Linked DNA regions of Homo sapiens: region 2 is linked to region 1. Evidence: fine-mapped expression QTL. Tissue or cell type: cerebral cortex. Region 1 holds a variant in brackets; the other region holds the start of a gene. All regions are shown on one strand. Distances are between the middles of the regions.

Region 1 (8,101 bases):
CTTGCTGGGGCTCCATGTAATGCACATTGGCTCCTGAGTTAATGGATCACATGAGAATTCACACAGGAAGAAACACATGCAATGTTGATCAAATGAGTGGTCATTTTTCTGTTGTTAGTTGTCACTTCTTGTGGCTATCAAGGTGTTCTGTTCTGTTGCTTATAAGATAAGCCCTTCTGCACACAGTTGTTCTGGGTGAGTGCCTGTCTCTCTTTGCAATCAAATATACGGGCTTTGTGACAGCTACTTGCCGCTCAGAGGTCATCTGGTTCATTCAAGTGAGTAGCACTGGATTGCAAGTGAACAGCTCTTAAATCCAGCCCCCGTGCCTACTGCGCCCCCTGCCCTGCTGCTCCTGTGCCTGGCCTGTGCCAGAAGGGTTCACGCGCCCTCCAGCAACCTGGTCCCACTAATCTCTCTGTTCTCTGGCTCTGTCCTGCCCAGGCTGGGCCCCAGCTGTCGCTCCCTCTTCATTCGTACTAATTCCAGCCCCTTCACTCTGTGCAGCCTGGTAGCAGTTCTGGCTGCTGCTGGGATCACGTCTGGGCCGTTCCCCTCTCGGCTCTGCACATGGGACCTTTCTGCCTTGACTTCTTCTCTCCCAGGAGAGCTGTTTTCTCCCCATGGACCGAACATCAGGAGTGGGCAGTGAGTGCCCCCAACAAGCACTGGGGGCAACCAGAGCATCTTTTAAAACAATAACTTTTATTGTACATATTTCAGGTATACAGCATGATGCTATGGGATGCATATAGACAGTGAGATGGTTACCATGATGAAGCAGTTAACATATCCATCATCTCACAGTTCCCTTAGATTTTTTGTTCTTGTGGCAAGAGCAGCTAAAATCTACTCATTTAGCATGAACTCCACATACAGTACAATTTTATTACCTACAGTCCTCATGTTATACAGTAGATTCTAGCCTTGTTCATCCTACATACCTGCTACTTTGTATGCTCTGACCTTTAAAAAATCCCTTTCAACCCTTTGACTGTGGGATACACACCTGAAAGTATAATGTCTCCGACTAGGTGAGATTCCTTTGTACACACTTACAGCACCTTGTGATTTGCCGTCATAGACCTCGTGACAGTTCTAATTCTGTAGTGATTTTTGATTATCTGTTTAGTGTCTGTGTCCCCATATGAGTCTAAGCCCTAAGAAGGCAGGGACTAGGTCTCACTGCTGAATCCCCAGCACCCAGTTTAGGGCCTGACCTTCTAGTGAGAAGGAAGGAAGCTAGGGAGGGAGGAAGCGAGGGAGGCAGGGAACAAGGGAGTGAGGGACAGAAGAAGGAAAAAAGGAAGGTAGGTAGGGAGGGAGGAAGAGATGGTGGGGAGGCTGAGGCAGGAGGATCACTTGAACCCAGAAGTTCGAGGCTATAGTGAGCCATGATCAGGTCATCACACACCAACCTGGGCAACACAGCGAGACCTCATCCCTTAAAAAAAGAAGTTAGGAATTGGGGCTAGACTGGACCAAGGGAGGTGGCATTAATGACCTTAAAGGTCTCCTCAAAGTCAGGGGCTCCATAGTTCTGTAAATACCAGGAATTCAGAGTTGCACCCTTTGGAGCCCAAGGAGAGGCTCGGTGCTGAGCGGCCACTGCCTTCTCTCTTGCAGCCTGCCTGCAGCATAGGAGCTGTGACGCCTGCATGTCCTCAGACCTGACCTTCAACTGCAGCTGGTGCCATGTCCTCCAGAGGTTTGTGCCCAGGGTTACCTGCTGACTCCCACTGGCCGACTGTGGAGGGGAAGAGGGTGGCATGGCCCCGTCCTGGCCTCACTGCCCACAGTCAGCCAACATGAGAGTATCTCTGGCCAGTACCACTCTGACTCTTGGGACAAGAACATGGCCTGGGGGCTTCTGGAAGACCATTTAGGGATTCCAGCTACTCAGGCTCCCTCCTCACACCCAGGAGGAGAGGGTTCATCCTGGAACAGGGCTTCTCGGAGTGTTCCACAGCTGTGGGCATTAGACCCTGGGCTCCAGTTAAACACACTGGATTCCTGGGACCCATCCCAGACCCTCTGTATCAGGATCTCTGGGAGAGAACCCAGGAAGCTGCATTTTAACATCATGCTTCATCTGCAAACAAGTGTGAGAACTGCCAGTTCAGAGACAAAGTCTGGTCCAAAGACCCATGACCCCAAAACACCACCTCAAGATCTTTCTTGGGCTGCAAGGGATTTTTCTGAAGACCAGGGGTGTGGACTACAGGCATCCATGGAAAGTTGGGAGAGCTAAAAAGCTGTGTTTGCTTGCTTTTAGAAGCTCAGAAAATTCTGGGTGAGATTCAGTTTCAGTGATAATGTTCTTAAATCCATCTCCTCTTCCACTCCTTGTTCTGAAATCATTTCCTCACAGATTAGACTCAGCATTCAAGCTCTGTTCCCTGTCCAAGATAAATAAATGACAGGAGGAGGGGGAAGAAAAAGATTTCCTTGGGGACTAGAGTTCTCATGAGAGTGGGAAGTCCTATGAACTCCAAGGGCTTTTAAGGCAATCTTGAAAATTGCTAAATTATAGTCTCTGAGTTCCTGTGCAGCTGTCGTGCTGCTCCTTTCCAATGCTCCTTTCCAGTGCTTTTTTTTTTTTTGAGAGAGTTTTGCTCTTGTTGCCCAGGCTGGAGTACAATGGTGTGATCTTGGCTCACTGCAACCTTTACCTCCTGAGTTCAAGCGATTCTCCTGCCTCAGCCTCTTGAGTAGCTAGGATTACAGGCACACACCACCACACCCAGCTAATTTTTTTGTATTTTTCTAGTAGAGATGGGGTTTCACCAAACCAAGAGTTTGGCCAGGCTTGTCTCAAACTCTTGACCTCAGGTAATCCATCTATCTCGGCCTTCCCAAAGGCGTGAGCCACTGCCCCGGCCCCAGTGATTTCCTTTGCCTCTGCACCATGGCCCACTCTGGAGTCTAAGAGTAACATTAATTCCAGGATTCCTTTGCTCCTTTCCAATATCCTGCTGCAAATGTAGAAGTTCTCGCCTTTATAGGCAGCCTGCCTAGCACACAGGACACAGCTCTGGGCCCAGAGGGGATGGGGTGTGCCCATCAGGTCTCCCAGGTGTTCTTCCCACCAGCTGTGCTTTTATTCACTCTCTTGGGGCCTCAGATTGTTTACCCTGTAAAATGGGCTGGGGTCATGTGATTCAGGAAGATGTGGGAACAAACACACTGTTATTTAAACTCCTCAAGCAGTTTTTGTTTTGTTTTGAGACAGGGTCTTGCTCTGTCATCCAGGCTGGGGTGCAGTGGTGCAATCACAGCTCACTGTGGCCTCAACCTCCTGGCTCAAGCAATCCTCCTGCCTCAGTCCCCCCTGTAGTTGAAACCACAGGTGCACACCACCACACCCGGCCATTTTTCTAATATTTTGTAGAGATGGGGTCTCACTTTGTTGGCCAAGCTGGTCTTGAACTCCTGGGTTCAAGTGATCTGCCCTCCTCGGCCTCCCAAAATGCTGGGATTACAGGTGTGAGCCACTGCACCCAGGCTATCAAGATATCAAGAAGCATTTTTTTTTTTTTTGAGACGGAGTCTCGCTCTGTCACCCAGGCTGGAGTGCAGTGGCGCGATCTCGGTTCACTGCAAGCTCCGCCTCCCGGGTTCTGGCCATTCTCCTGCCTAAGCCTCCCGAGTAGCTGGGACTACAGGCGCCTGCAACCACGCCTGGCTAATTTTTTGTATTTTTTTTTTTTTTTTTAGTAGAGATGAGGTTTCACCGTGTTAGCCAGGACAGTCTCGATCTCCTGACCTCATGATCCGCCCGCCTCGGCCTCCCAAAGTACTGGGATTACAGGCGTGAGCCACCACGCCCAGCCGCAAGAAGCATTTTTACAAAGCATTCAGCATCCTTCGCATGAGACTCACAGAGCCTCAGAAAGAATATGTAGGATAGACCCCAGGTTGGTTCTTCCTGGAGCAGAGCGTTGCAGAATAGTCTGCAGACTGTGAGGCTCTCCTTATACCTGGAGGGCTTGTAAAATGCAGATTCCTGGGCCCCATCCCACTGAATATGATCCTCTGGAACCAGGATCCCAGAAATCTGATTTTTGAAGTGGTCCCTCTTGTGTACTTTCAAATTTGAGAACCATGGTCTAAGCAATGGAGAGATGGCCTCAGATGAGCCCTGGGATCCTGGGGCTGGCTGCCACCACATGACTCAGCTTTCACAAGCGCTGAGCCATGAGAACTGCAAAATGGGTCAGATGACAGCCAAACTCTCCCATCAACACAACCCCCATTTAAAGCATATGCCCAAATTCAGAGACTATGAGTTAAATGAGGGTTGAGCCCTCCTCAACATTAGGAGGTTGGTCAGGCTGGGGGAAGGGCAAGGCCTCTGACTGTGTGCATCTGCAGGAGTTGTGTCAGCAAAGAGGAGCACAGAGAAACTCCACCTGGGGGAGCATGGCTGGTGCAGGCTGAAAATCATCCCATCCCCAGGCGCCCCATGGGCCTGGGCTCACTCCTGCACATTGTCCCTTCTTACAAGCTCTCTGGAGCCTCAGCTGCAACTGAGAGCTGAACCTAGGTCCCTAAAAACCCGGAGGGCAGGGCCAGCTGACATGGTCT[C/G]TCTGCCAACAGCTGCAGTCAGTCCCTGCATGGTTCTCTGCTCCCCTCCCCTCCACCCACTTTGCCTTTCACAGCCTCCCAGAGCTTTTCTCCTTGCTCTTGGGCTGGAATGGATTTAAACAATTTCGTCTCTCACGGCAGATGCCTGCCTGCCCCCGCCCCGCCATGACCCACTCTGGAGTCTAAGGGTAATGTTAATTCCAGGATTAGCTCCAGAAATGGGGGTCATAAACCCATACCAAAGGCTCAATCTTTGAAAGAATCAGTTAGCACAGTCTAAAAGAAACTATTTTTTTTTTTTAAGAGACAGGGTCTTGCTCTGTCACCCAGGCTGGAGTGCAGTGGTGCCATCATAGCTCACTATAGCCTTAAATTCCTGGGCTCAAGCAATCCTCCTGCCTCAGCCTCTCAAAACGCTGGGATTACAGGCATGAGCCACCACACCCAGCCCTAAAAGAAACTTTAGTTCTCAGCCTCCAATAGCCTTCCTAATCCTCCATCCCCCAAAGTAGTGGGCATAGAGGACCTGACAGAAGGAGAGTGTGGCTGGCTCAGTTCAGCCATCCCTGCTGCAGGAGGAGCAGCTCAGAGCCCAGAGGCATCTGCAGAAGGAAAGACTGACAGCTCCTGGCAAGCCTTGGCCCTTGGCCTCACCAAACCTCAGTGGGTGCTGGTGCAGTTAACCTGCTGAGAATTCCTTCTTGGCACTGGTGGTTCATGATGTTATTCTTCCCATGCAGACATCCCTGGGCTTGAGTAGGGCTTGGTGGGTTCCCCTAGCACCAAAGAGTAAAGAACGAAAAGTTGGGAATGATGCATGGAGAACATTCTCTGGTGCATCGTCATGCCCCCATCCTTTCCCTACAGGGGCGCTTGGTGTCTTCCAGCCCAGCTGAGCTGTCCAATGCCCTCTCCGGAGACCCTTGTCAGCCAGTTGTCTCCCAGCCTCTCTGGCAGGACCGTCAGAAATGCCCTTGAATGATCACATGGGGAGGTGTTGACTAAGTCTGCTGAGGCCTACCTTTAGCCCTACTCTCTTTCCCAAGTTTAGGTCCCTCAACAACCAGGATGAAAACACGTATGTGAATTGCCTGGATTCTCAGCAGTGTCACGGCAGCTCAGAGTCAAGGCGACCTTGAGGATCACTGGAGCTCATGCAGTCCTGCTAGCCCCTACACCTACTCACATGGGCAGATGTGGCCTTGGTCCTGGGGAGCTGGGTGGGAAGGAAGGCAGGGATGCCACAAATACCTTCATCTTCCGGGGAAGTAGAGGGAATGGGAGTGCCTGACTACCTCAGCCTGGGGACCTTGGCTCCTCTTCTCACTATCAGCAGAGAGCTGTTACTGAACAGTGAAAGGGGAAGGCTTCTTTGTCAATCCCATCATAACTCTGTCCTTTTGGTCCTCCTGCAGATGCTCCAGTGGCTTTGACCGCTATCGCCAGGAGTGGATGGACTATGGCTGTGCACAGGAGGTGAGAAGCATAAGTATCTGCTGCAACTCCTGTGCCAGGTGGTGGGGAACAGGAGGGCAGCCAGTAGGGCCTGCCCCTGGAAACTCTTCTCAAGGTGGCATTAGCTCTTGGCAATATCCTCCCTTCCATCTAAGATTTGTTTTCCAGACTGCCTTGAGCCAATCAGACCCACTTTGGAAGGTTTCAGAGGGCTCTGTGGGTCTCTGAGACGAGCATTCTGATGCCTTGACCTTAAGTGGGCAGCTCTCAAGGAATTCTTTTGGTGCATGCAGAGGGGATGTTGGGCATGGCCTCAGCCACTGCTGGCTCCTCTGGGAGACTGTGCACCTGCTGACCTTAATGATGCACCTGCTAAGCCTCTGGTCCTCTGGCTTTTGAGGAAGGCAGTCATTCTGGGAGTGAGAAGGGTGGTTCCAGGCATCTCCTCTTTAGAATCCCATCCAGGTTCCTTCTCACTGCAAGAATTTTCCAGTACACTCAACACTGATTCTAGGTGGAAAGCATCCTATTCTCACACCATAGACTAACATAGATGGGTCTATTCATCTGTGCCCTCTTTTTTGCCCCCTCCCTTTATATCTTCTTGCAAAGCAAGCATGCTGCATGTGCCAAGCATGTCACTGTGAGTTGCCCTACCCTCGCTCTTATTTAACCTGAACCAAAAGCTGGGGGCCATTGCCCCCATTGATCGATCACAGGGGAAAACTGGGGCTCAGAGAAGTTTAATGAATTGGCCTGCATCTCGCTGCTAGAAGGTGACGGGCCCAGCATTTAAATATCAACTCTCCAGACCCTGTGGCCATACACTTACCACAGTCTATTTATTAGTCTGAGTCTGGGCTTTAAAAAAACCCTGTCCAGCCGCCTACTTTTGAAGTTAGCTGTTGGTGACCGTTCAGATTTGCTCTATTTATTTAAGATTGGCATCTCAGCCCCTTCCTTGAGGAAGGATTTGAAGCAGCTGACAGATAAATTGCCCTGTAAGAGAAGATGCTTTCAGGATGAAGGGAAAGGTGTAAATGCATTCAAGACACAGCACTGGCTCTCTCCTGCAGGCAGAGGGCAGGATGTGCGAGGACTTCCAGGATGAGGACCACGACTCAGCCTCCCCTGACACTTCCTTCAGCCCCTATGATGGAGACCTCACCACTACCTCCTCCTCCCTCTTCATCGACAGCCTCACCACAGAAGGTAAGTTCTGAGCCCAGGAGGGGAGCAGAGAGGAGGCCAGGAAGGAGAGCTACCCACCCCTCTGGGGCCCCCTCTCTGTCCCTGACAGGGATGATCTCATGGGATGGGAACTGCCCCATCCTTTTATAGCTAAGGGGGCCTGAAGTTCAGACAGTTTAGGTCACTTGCTGGTGAGAAGCAGAGCCAGATTTAGAACTTGAACTCTACTCCTGGGCTCTAACCACTGTACTGGCCCACATCAGGGCTACAGACAATTCACTGTGAAGAGGGGAAAAATTAATAGCCCAGGCCAGTGCCAGGTATTTTATATACCTTATCTCAGCTAATCTTAATAGCAGTCCTCACAGAACCTGAAAAGGCTCATCCCTGTAGCAGGTATGAACTCAGTCCATACACTCAGGCGTGAGAGAAAGGCTGCCTTGTTTTTCTGTATGATCACCTGACTTCTCACTTTCAGGCCCTGGAGTGATGGATGGGGAATTCCACCTCAGCTGTCCATCCACCCTGACTATTCAGGTCTTGCAATCTAGGGGCTTCCCTGCTACCTGGAGGCCTGGGGGTCTTGGTTGAAGCTGCCAGAGGTCCATCCCCGTGAATGCACCAGGCGGTGTCCCAGGAAGCCTTGTGCAGGCTCCTCCGGTCCTAGGCCTCAAATCTCTTCCCTTTCTCCCATGCCCCCTCCAGGATTCTGTAGCTATGTCTGAGACATTCCTCTCCCTTATCCTTTTTCAATACCCTGCATCTCGGCCAGGCACAGTGGCTCACACCTGTAATCCCAGCACTTCGGGAGGCTGAGGTGAGCAGACCACTTGAGGTCAGGGGTTTGAGACCAGCCTGACCAACATGG
Region 2 (8,101 bases), 150 kb after region 1:
GCTTTGTTAAACAGATGCTTGAAGGCAGCATGCTCGTTAAGAGTCATCACCACTCCCTAATCTCAAGTACCCAGGGACACAAACACTGCGGAAGGCCGCAGGGTCCTCTGCCTAGGAAAACCAGAGACCTTTGTTCACTTGTTTATCTGCTGACCTTCCCTCCACTATTGTCCTATGACCCTGCCAAATCCCCCTCTGCGAGAAACACCCAAGAATGATCAATAAAAAATAAAAAATAAAAAATAAAAAAAAAAATAATAATAATAATAAAAGAAAACAAAAAAAAAAGAAGAGGCCACTCTAGGCTTTGAAAATATCTATAGTTTGATAAAGCCAAAGCATGTAATTTACAAAGACAATTTTCCACTTCAGTTGTACTTCGATGCCTAAGGAAAAGTCCCATTATTTTTGAGTAATTTAAAATCAAAATGATATTTTGGCCAGGCACGGTGGCTCACACCTGTAATCCCAGCACTTTGGGAGGCTGAGGCAGGCAGATAGCCTGAGGTCAGGAGTTCCAAACCAACCTGGCCAACATGATGAAAACCTGTCTCTACTTTAAAAAATACAAAAATTAGCCAGGCATGGGGATGCACACCTGTGCTCCCAGCCACTCGGAAGGCTGAGGCAGGAGAATCGCTTGAACCCAGGAGGCGGAGGTTGCAGTGAGCCAAGATTGTGCCATTGCACTCCAGCCTGGGTGACAAGAGCGAAACTCTGTCTCAAAAACCAAAAAATAAAATAAATAAAATACATCATTCTTCCCCACAAACCCCCTGTTTTCATCAAGAAAGCAGGTATTAGTGTAATGATTCTTAGCATTGTCACTTGATTTTTTTCTAAGTAATTTATAATTCTTCAGAGTGGTTTTTATCTCATTGACATTTTATTGGACAAAATTACCCTATGACACAAATTTATAAAATTTATACAAAATCTTATATTACAGAGGTAACTTTTTGCAGTGTTTTATTATGTTTTGGGATGCCAAAATACAAATAGTTTAAATGTAAAATTTAAACAACTATCAAAATAACACAGTAAAACCCTGTTATAAGCTAGCATATTGTTGCATAAATATAAGCACAAAGTCATATAATTTTTCCAAAATGTATTGATTTATTTTTTTAAAATCATATTTTACAAGTAACTGAAGAGATGGGTAATCCTCTCTCCTTACATTGTACCCAATACCAGTGGTATATATCACCAGTGTATGAGTGAAATCTGCTGATTTTTTTTCACTGAATTGATTAGTTGTTTCAACTTTATGTGAATACAGACTGAGAAGCCTTGATGTCACAAAAGACCAGAGCAAGCTTGGTTAGACTATACTTTAAAGATCTATACCATCATAACTAACTCTAATTTGGACCCCTCCAAAATACTGGCGCATGCCTGAATTACCTAGGTAAGGATGTAGAGCTGCTGTCTTGGCTTGAAGACGGAAATTATAGTTCGAAACACTAAGATATACCAGAGTTAGAAGAATGTTTTAGTGGAAAATGTCACATCAAGGACTCCACTGAAGATCATTTCTAAATATATCCAGGTTCACAGCCATGCTGCTTGCATCCATGTATGTCAGATTACCTATCTTTTTGCTACATACCACGATGCAGTATCATACTTGTTAATATTCCTTAAACAGTTTAGGCAAATTATCACAGACATAATATATATTTGGAGTAAATAAATATGGCCATTTTCTCATCAAAATCTGGCTGTTGGTGAAAAAAAAAGAGTTTTGCAGTTAAATTTTTGTTATAAAGTGTCATGTTGGGAAGAATATTCAGAAAAGGGGGACTACCAGTGAACTATTAAGAGTTCGTTCCATGGGAATTCTGTTCTCGATGTAGTTTCCAAAGAGATAATGCGACCTTGGCCTAACACTTTCATTTGACAGAATAAACAGAGGACCTAAAGTTTATGTATTTATTTATTTTTATTTTATTTTTTATTTTTGTGGAGACGGGGGTCTCGCTATATTGCCTGGGCTGGTCTGGAATTCTTGGCCTCAAGCTATCCTCCTGCTTCTACTTCCCTAAATGCTGGGATTATAGGCATGCGCCATAGCACCTGGCCTAGCCCTAAAGTTTAAATGACTTATGAAAGGTCAGGTCATATAATTTGTTGCCAAAACAAAGCTTCCAGAATAGTGTTTTTTCTTGTCCATAATTTTTATGTTTTTATTATTATTTTTTTTTGAGATGGGGTCTTGCTGTGTCACCTAGGCTGGAGTGCAGAGGTGTGATCTCGGCTCACTGCAACCTCTGCCTCCCAGGTTCAAGCGATTCTCCTGCCTCAGCCTCCTGAGTAGCTGGGATTACAGGCACCTGCCACCACACCAGCTAATTTTTGTATTTTTAGTAGAGACAGGGTTTCACCACGTTGGTCAGACTGGTCTCAAACTCCCGACCTCAAGTGATCCTCCTGCCTGAGCCTCCCAAAGTGCTGGGATTCCAGGCGTGAGCCACCGTGCCCGGCCTTGTCCATAATTTTTAAACACAACTTTTCCATTTCAGTTGTGACATATAATGCCTCAATTTTTGTTTTAAAACATGGAAATTGGACACAATGTTATTACTAAAAACTAATCTTTCTCCTTGTTTATTTATTTATTTATTTTATTTTATTTGAGACGGAATCTCGCTATGTCTCCCAGGCTGGAGTGCAGTGACATGATGTCGGCTCACTACAACCTCTGCCTCCCGGGTTCAAGCAATTCTTCGGCCTCAGCCTCCCGGGTAGCTGGGACTACAGGCGCGCACTACTGTGCCTGACTAATTTTTGTATTTTTAGTAGAGACGGGGTTTCACCGTGTTGGCCAGGCTGGTCTCCAACTCCTGACCTCAGGTGATCCATCCGCCTCGGCCTCCCAGAGTGCTGGGATTACAGGCATGAGCCACCACTCCTGACTCTCCTTGTTTACTTTTAAGCAAGAAAGGAAAATTAAATGTAGAACAATTATGATAGACTTGTAAAAGGAATAAACACCCCAGATTTGCAGGCCAATTCTACTCTGAATCCCAAAATACATAGTTTCTTCAACTCTAATGGGTCAGAGAACTATGTGGAAAGTTTTTTCCAGAAAAGATCTTTGATTAAAACACACACACACACACACACGCACACACACACACACACACACACTCATTTTGGGGTAAGAGATTTTTCCTAAATAAGTATAGCCATCTTGTTTCTATCATTTATAATTCAATCAGGTGCAAAGAGAGGACTATATAACCATTTCTCCCTTTAAATGAGAAACTGGGATACAAGTGGTTTGAGGTGGGGAAGAAATGATACATTTTAAAAACTCAAATGACAAGTTCTTCCTGGCTGGAGAGTGAGACAAGAGAAACCACAAAACCCCAGACTGTGCAATCTGTAAAGACAGTGATAAAGTGACTACTTCATAGATGAAGATGGACAACTTGAACTTCCCCTTGAGTTTCACAAGGGAGTCCTGTGTGTGAGAAGGAAGGAACATATTTGAGTGTAATGTGCAGTTGCATTTAGATCTAAGGAAACTTAAAATGAATTTAAGTTTCCTTAATTCAAAATGAATTTTTGAGCAGTTCTCCACGGTAACTTTAATAAGTCTCCATTTCAACTTTCTGTTCTCAATCCCATCTACAGCTCAAACATATGCAGTATCTGCCAGCCCTGTCCATGAATTCCTGAAGTCCCAGCCAAGTGCCTCTCAGCTCAAAAAGCCCCTTGCTTGCCAGGGGTCAGCCATGTCTGGAAGGCTCTGAAAGAGGTCTGCTGGGCAGTAGGACTGCTTCTGTGGATGAGAGGCCTCTTGTTGGACTGGAGAGACCAGGAGCTGTAAGAAACCCAGAAATAAAAAGTCTCAGATGGGGACAACTGCAAAGTACCAGGAGTTCCTCCCTCCTCTCCACCATATCCCACAGTTGGACATCTCCCCGAAAACCCCACCCCAAGTAAAATTTATTTGCCGTCTCACCCTCAAATAAGAATGAGTCAATCATTAAGTAATGCAATTATACAAGCATAGTTGTAAACAACTATATTGCAAGTATGCTGACATGCAAAGATGTGTTTTACCTTTAATTACCAGAAGAAAATAGACAACTTGAGTTTGAGCACCTAACTTGAAGAAGAAATTAGGAAATAATAGTCCCTCCCCACCACATCCATCATTCCCAACCCGTTCTGCCTAAAAATCGTTTACATTGTGGATTTTATTTGTAATTTTTAAAGTCTTATTTTAAATTAGGTCCCAAAGAAAGAAGCTGGCATTTCTTATTCTTTTCAGAGTGGTCTAAGAAAAAAAATAGGAAAGCAAACTCTTTCTTTTTTTCTTTTCTTTTTTTTTTGGAATCAATACCCGAGATAACAGCAGAAGCAAAAATCCACCGGTGCGTCAGCAAGCAGGGCACTCGGCCATTCATCTCCATCCTTCCTTCTGAGCTGTTCTCCAGCAGGCTCCGGCCGCAGCTCCAGGCCACTAGAGCAGATAGATAATGTAGGACAGAATGACCAGGCCTATGATGGCAAAGAACATCAGGATGAAAATATCCAGCATTGTGGATTCCTAGGCCGACCAAGCCCCTGGATTCTGGTGAACCGTGAGCTGTGAGCACGGAGGTTGCAGTCGGTGGAGAGAAATGGCTCCCCTTCACTCCACAGCTCAGCCCTGGTTCTTTCCCCTCCCCCTCCCAGGGGCCTGAGACTGAAGGATGCTGCAGCTCCACCAGCAGCTTCCTGCCCCCCCACCAACCACAGCCAACCAATCACAAAGCCTGGGGGTGGATAGCCAAGGAGATGCCAGATTTAGACCCACAGAACCGCAGAATCAAAGGGGCTCAATTTCTCCCCAGGAACCCAATCCCACCCCTTTGTATCTAAATGGAGCCTGCATGCTCTGGATGTAGGAGGAGATAGGATCCTACCCAGCTCCCCCAAGAGTGAATCCTCCTGACTGCCTTCTTCGCGTTTCCTCTCACACACCTCGGGCAGATTATCTCAGAAAAATCATGGTTGGGTATTGGGTGGGCCATTGGCAACTTCTAAAGGTCACATTATGGGGAGACACAGACAAAAGTTTCGTGTGGATCTCAGTGGGCTTCCCTGAGGGATGAAGCTAACATTTATACATTTCCTACACTGGGCCAGATATCGTACATGTGGTGCAATTTCAACCTCCCTATGAGTCTTTCATAGATGGGGCTCAGAGATGGTCAGAAACTTACCCTAATGGTTCATAGCTTAGATGTGTCAGAGACCAGCCGGGCGCAGTGGCTCATGCCTATAATCCCAGCACTTTGGGAGGCCGAGGCAGGTGGATCACAAGGTCAGGAGTTCAAGACCAGCCTGGCCAAGATGGTGAAACCCTGTCTCTACTAAAAATACAAAAGTTAGCCAGGCTTGGTGGTGCATGCCTGTAATCCCAGCTACTTGGGAGGCTGAGGCAGAGAATTGCTTGAACCCGGGAGGCAGAGCTGAGATCGCGCCACTGCACCCCAGCCTGGGCTACAGAGCAAGATTCTGTCTCAAAAAAAAAATAAAAATAAAAATTAGCCGGGCGTGGTGGCAGGTGCCTGTTATCCCAGCTATTCAAGAGGCTGAGGCTAAAGAATTGCTTGAACCCGGCAGGCAGAGGTCGCAGTGAGCTGAGACCGTGCCATTGCACTCCAGCCTGGGTGACAGAGCGAGACTCCGTCTCAAAAATAAATAAATTAATAAATAAAATAAAAAGTAAAAGGCTGGGTGTGGTGGCTCATGCCTGTAATCCCAACACTTTGGGAGGCTGAGGTAGGTGAATCACCTGAGGTCAGGAGTTCAAGACCAGCCTGACCAACATGGAGAAACTCCAGCTCTACTAAAAATACAAAATTAGCTGGGCATGGTGGCACATGCCTGTAATCCCAGCTACTCAGGAGGCTGAGGCAGGAGAATCGCTTGAACCTGGGAGGTGGAGGTTGCAGTGAGCTGAGATTGTGCCATTGCACTCCAGCCTGGGCAACAAGAGTGAAACTCCGTCTCAAAATAATTAATTAATTAATTAAAAATGTCAGAGACCAGGATTCAAAACTAGGCATGCTGACACCAAAGTCCATATTCTTCCTCTTGCGCCACACTGCTCCCCCTGTTGGTCCGGAAGGCCCCTACACCCCACGTGCACTGCTCAGCTTGCAGTGGACTGCTTTCACATCGATCCACCTACAGGACGAGCACCAGAGACCCCTCCTCCACCCACTCCTTCGTCTCTTTGCAGTCATTACCCACTGTTTTGTTTTCCTTCTTTCTTTTTTTATAGAGACGGGGTCTTGCCATTTTGCCCAGGCTGGTCTCAAACTCCTGGACTCAAGCGATCCTCCCACCTCAGCCTCCCAAAGTGCTGGGATTGCAGGTGTGAACCACCGCACCCGGCCTAGTTTTGTTTTCTTTGGTATCCTCTTCCAAAAGCTCAGCATAGTGTTGTACACAGAGAGGACACTGAAGAATTCCCCAGGGGTATCCCTGAAATTTAAAAAATTCAAGTGGTTTCTTCTGAGGGGGAAAAGAGAATTATTTTATTCTTTTTATTTATTTATTTATTTATTTATTTATTTATTTATTTATTTATTCTTAGACGGAGTCTTGCTCTGTCACCCAGGCTGGAGTGCAGTGGCACGATCTCAGCTCAGTGCAAGCTCTGCCTCCCGGGTTCACGCCATTCTCCTGCCTCAGCCTCCCGAGTAGCTGGGACTACAGGCACCCGCCACCGCGCCCAGCTTATTTTTTGTATTTTTAGTATAGACGGGGTTTCACTGTGTTAGCCAGGATTTTTGTGCCTTTTTATAAGCCTCAATTATTTTCTATTAAATTAAATCATTCCCTAGGACGTCTCTGAGGCCTAGTCTCCTTGGCCCCCACCCCAAATAATATTTTTTTTAAAGGCCTGGGGTTAAGATATATTGGTAACCCCCTCATAATGCAAGACCTCAGGAACTTAGGCCACTGCCAGAAGGAAATCCAGAAACTCCTCCCATTGGCCCATTTCCAGGAGGCAGAGCTTTCTGTGAGCAGGGAGTGGAGACTTGGCAGCAATGTCCCCCAAAGCACTGTTCCATCAAATAGATCTGAAGGTGAATGAAGCCTCCCGGGGAGTGGGGCAGGCCGACATGAGGCAAGCTTTGCCAACTAATTCCCTTCTATTGGGAAAGTATTGGGCTGCCTGCACCCCTGGAGGGGAGCAGGTGTCAGTGCTGTCTCTAATTATACCACCCAGGGCAGCCTTGGATGCTCCCCACATTGCCCCAGCTCAGCTGACTCTGGCCATGTCATTCTCCAGATTACAAATGCTCAGCTCAGGAGAGCCCTCCTCCTCTCCACCCTGCTGTGATTCTGAGGCTGGAGAATTCCTTAGTTCTGAGCCCCAAGAGAGAAATGCCCCTCAAGCAGCTGGACCTGAGGCTGATTGGCAGCACTGAGCAGGGCCAGATTCCCCTCTCTACCACTGTCCTCTTCCCAAGCCCAATGAGCAAGAGGGGAGGCCGCCTGGCCTTCTGGCCAGTCACAGACCCTGGGCACCTGGAGCAAAACATGGAGCCCAGGAGACACACATCTAAGAGCTGCCACAGACACAGGCACGCGGCCTGCCATGGCCGGGTGGCACAGCACCAGACTGTGAGCATCACATGGGGGTCTCAGGCCCCACTCTGCCACTAGCTGTGACTGCCACCAATCTGCTTTGCCTTTCTGGGTTTCAGTGAGCCCCTCTATAAGTAGTTACTTCTCTCACAGGGTTGTGAGGAAGAAGGAAGAAAGGGGATGTGTATTAAAGATTACATTCAGAAGGCACTGTGAATAGTGCTTTGGGTTGCCAGGCCACCTTACAGACAGCTTTATCCAGGTCCCGTCCCACTGTGGAATGCCCTGTCATCTCGTTCCTCAAATGCGTGGAGCTCCTGCTCTCTGCCTGGCAGCGGCAGAGTGCTAGAACTGCTCCCCAGCCAAGCTCATTCATTAATTCAACAGCTCCGCACCGCTCCTGGGCAGGTACCCGGGATTTAGAGATGAATTAGACTCATCACCTGCCCCAAGGGCTCTGGCTAGTGGGGAGACAGATATGTCACTGAGGAAGTGA

Alleles and levels. Positions count from the first base shown, and alleles are read on the strand shown. Sizes are in standard deviations (SD) of each study's normalised expression.
For the expression in cerebral cortex of the gene that starts at base 4,635 in region 2, G is the high allele of the variant in region 1 and C is the other (small effect, 0.17 SD a copy in GTEx).

The links. PIP is the estimated chance that this variant, and not a neighbour inherited with it, causes the effect.
Region 2: it holds the start of LASP1NB, and the variant in region 1 is fine-mapped to the expression of LASP1NB in cerebral cortex (GTEx, PIP 0.98).

What each region holds. Positions count from the first base shown.
Region 1 is chr17:39,077,066-39,085,166 of GRCh38, reverse strand. It overlaps PLXDC1 (plexin domain containing 1), which reads left to right. Exons shown (of 14, transcript NM_020405.5): 9 at 1,627-1,708; 10 at 6,003-6,063; 11 at 7,119-7,254. It also overlaps the pseudogene RDM1P5. Among named protein-coding and RNA genes, the nearest start is that of LINC02079, 54 kb to the right of the region's middle. RefSeq lists enhancers at 1,199-1,699, 4,080-4,149, 4,330-4,389. The variant C/G (reference allele first, on the strand shown) is at 4,588.
Region 2 is chr17:38,922,148-38,930,248 of GRCh38, reverse strand. LASP1NB (LASP1 neighbor) reads right to left here and starts at 4,635. Exons shown (of 2, transcript NM_001414697.1): 1 at 4,358-4,635; 2 at 868-3,832. The coding sequence starts at 4,555. The coding sequence ends at 4,478. RefSeq lists enhancers at 1-10, 11-556, 7,640-8,101.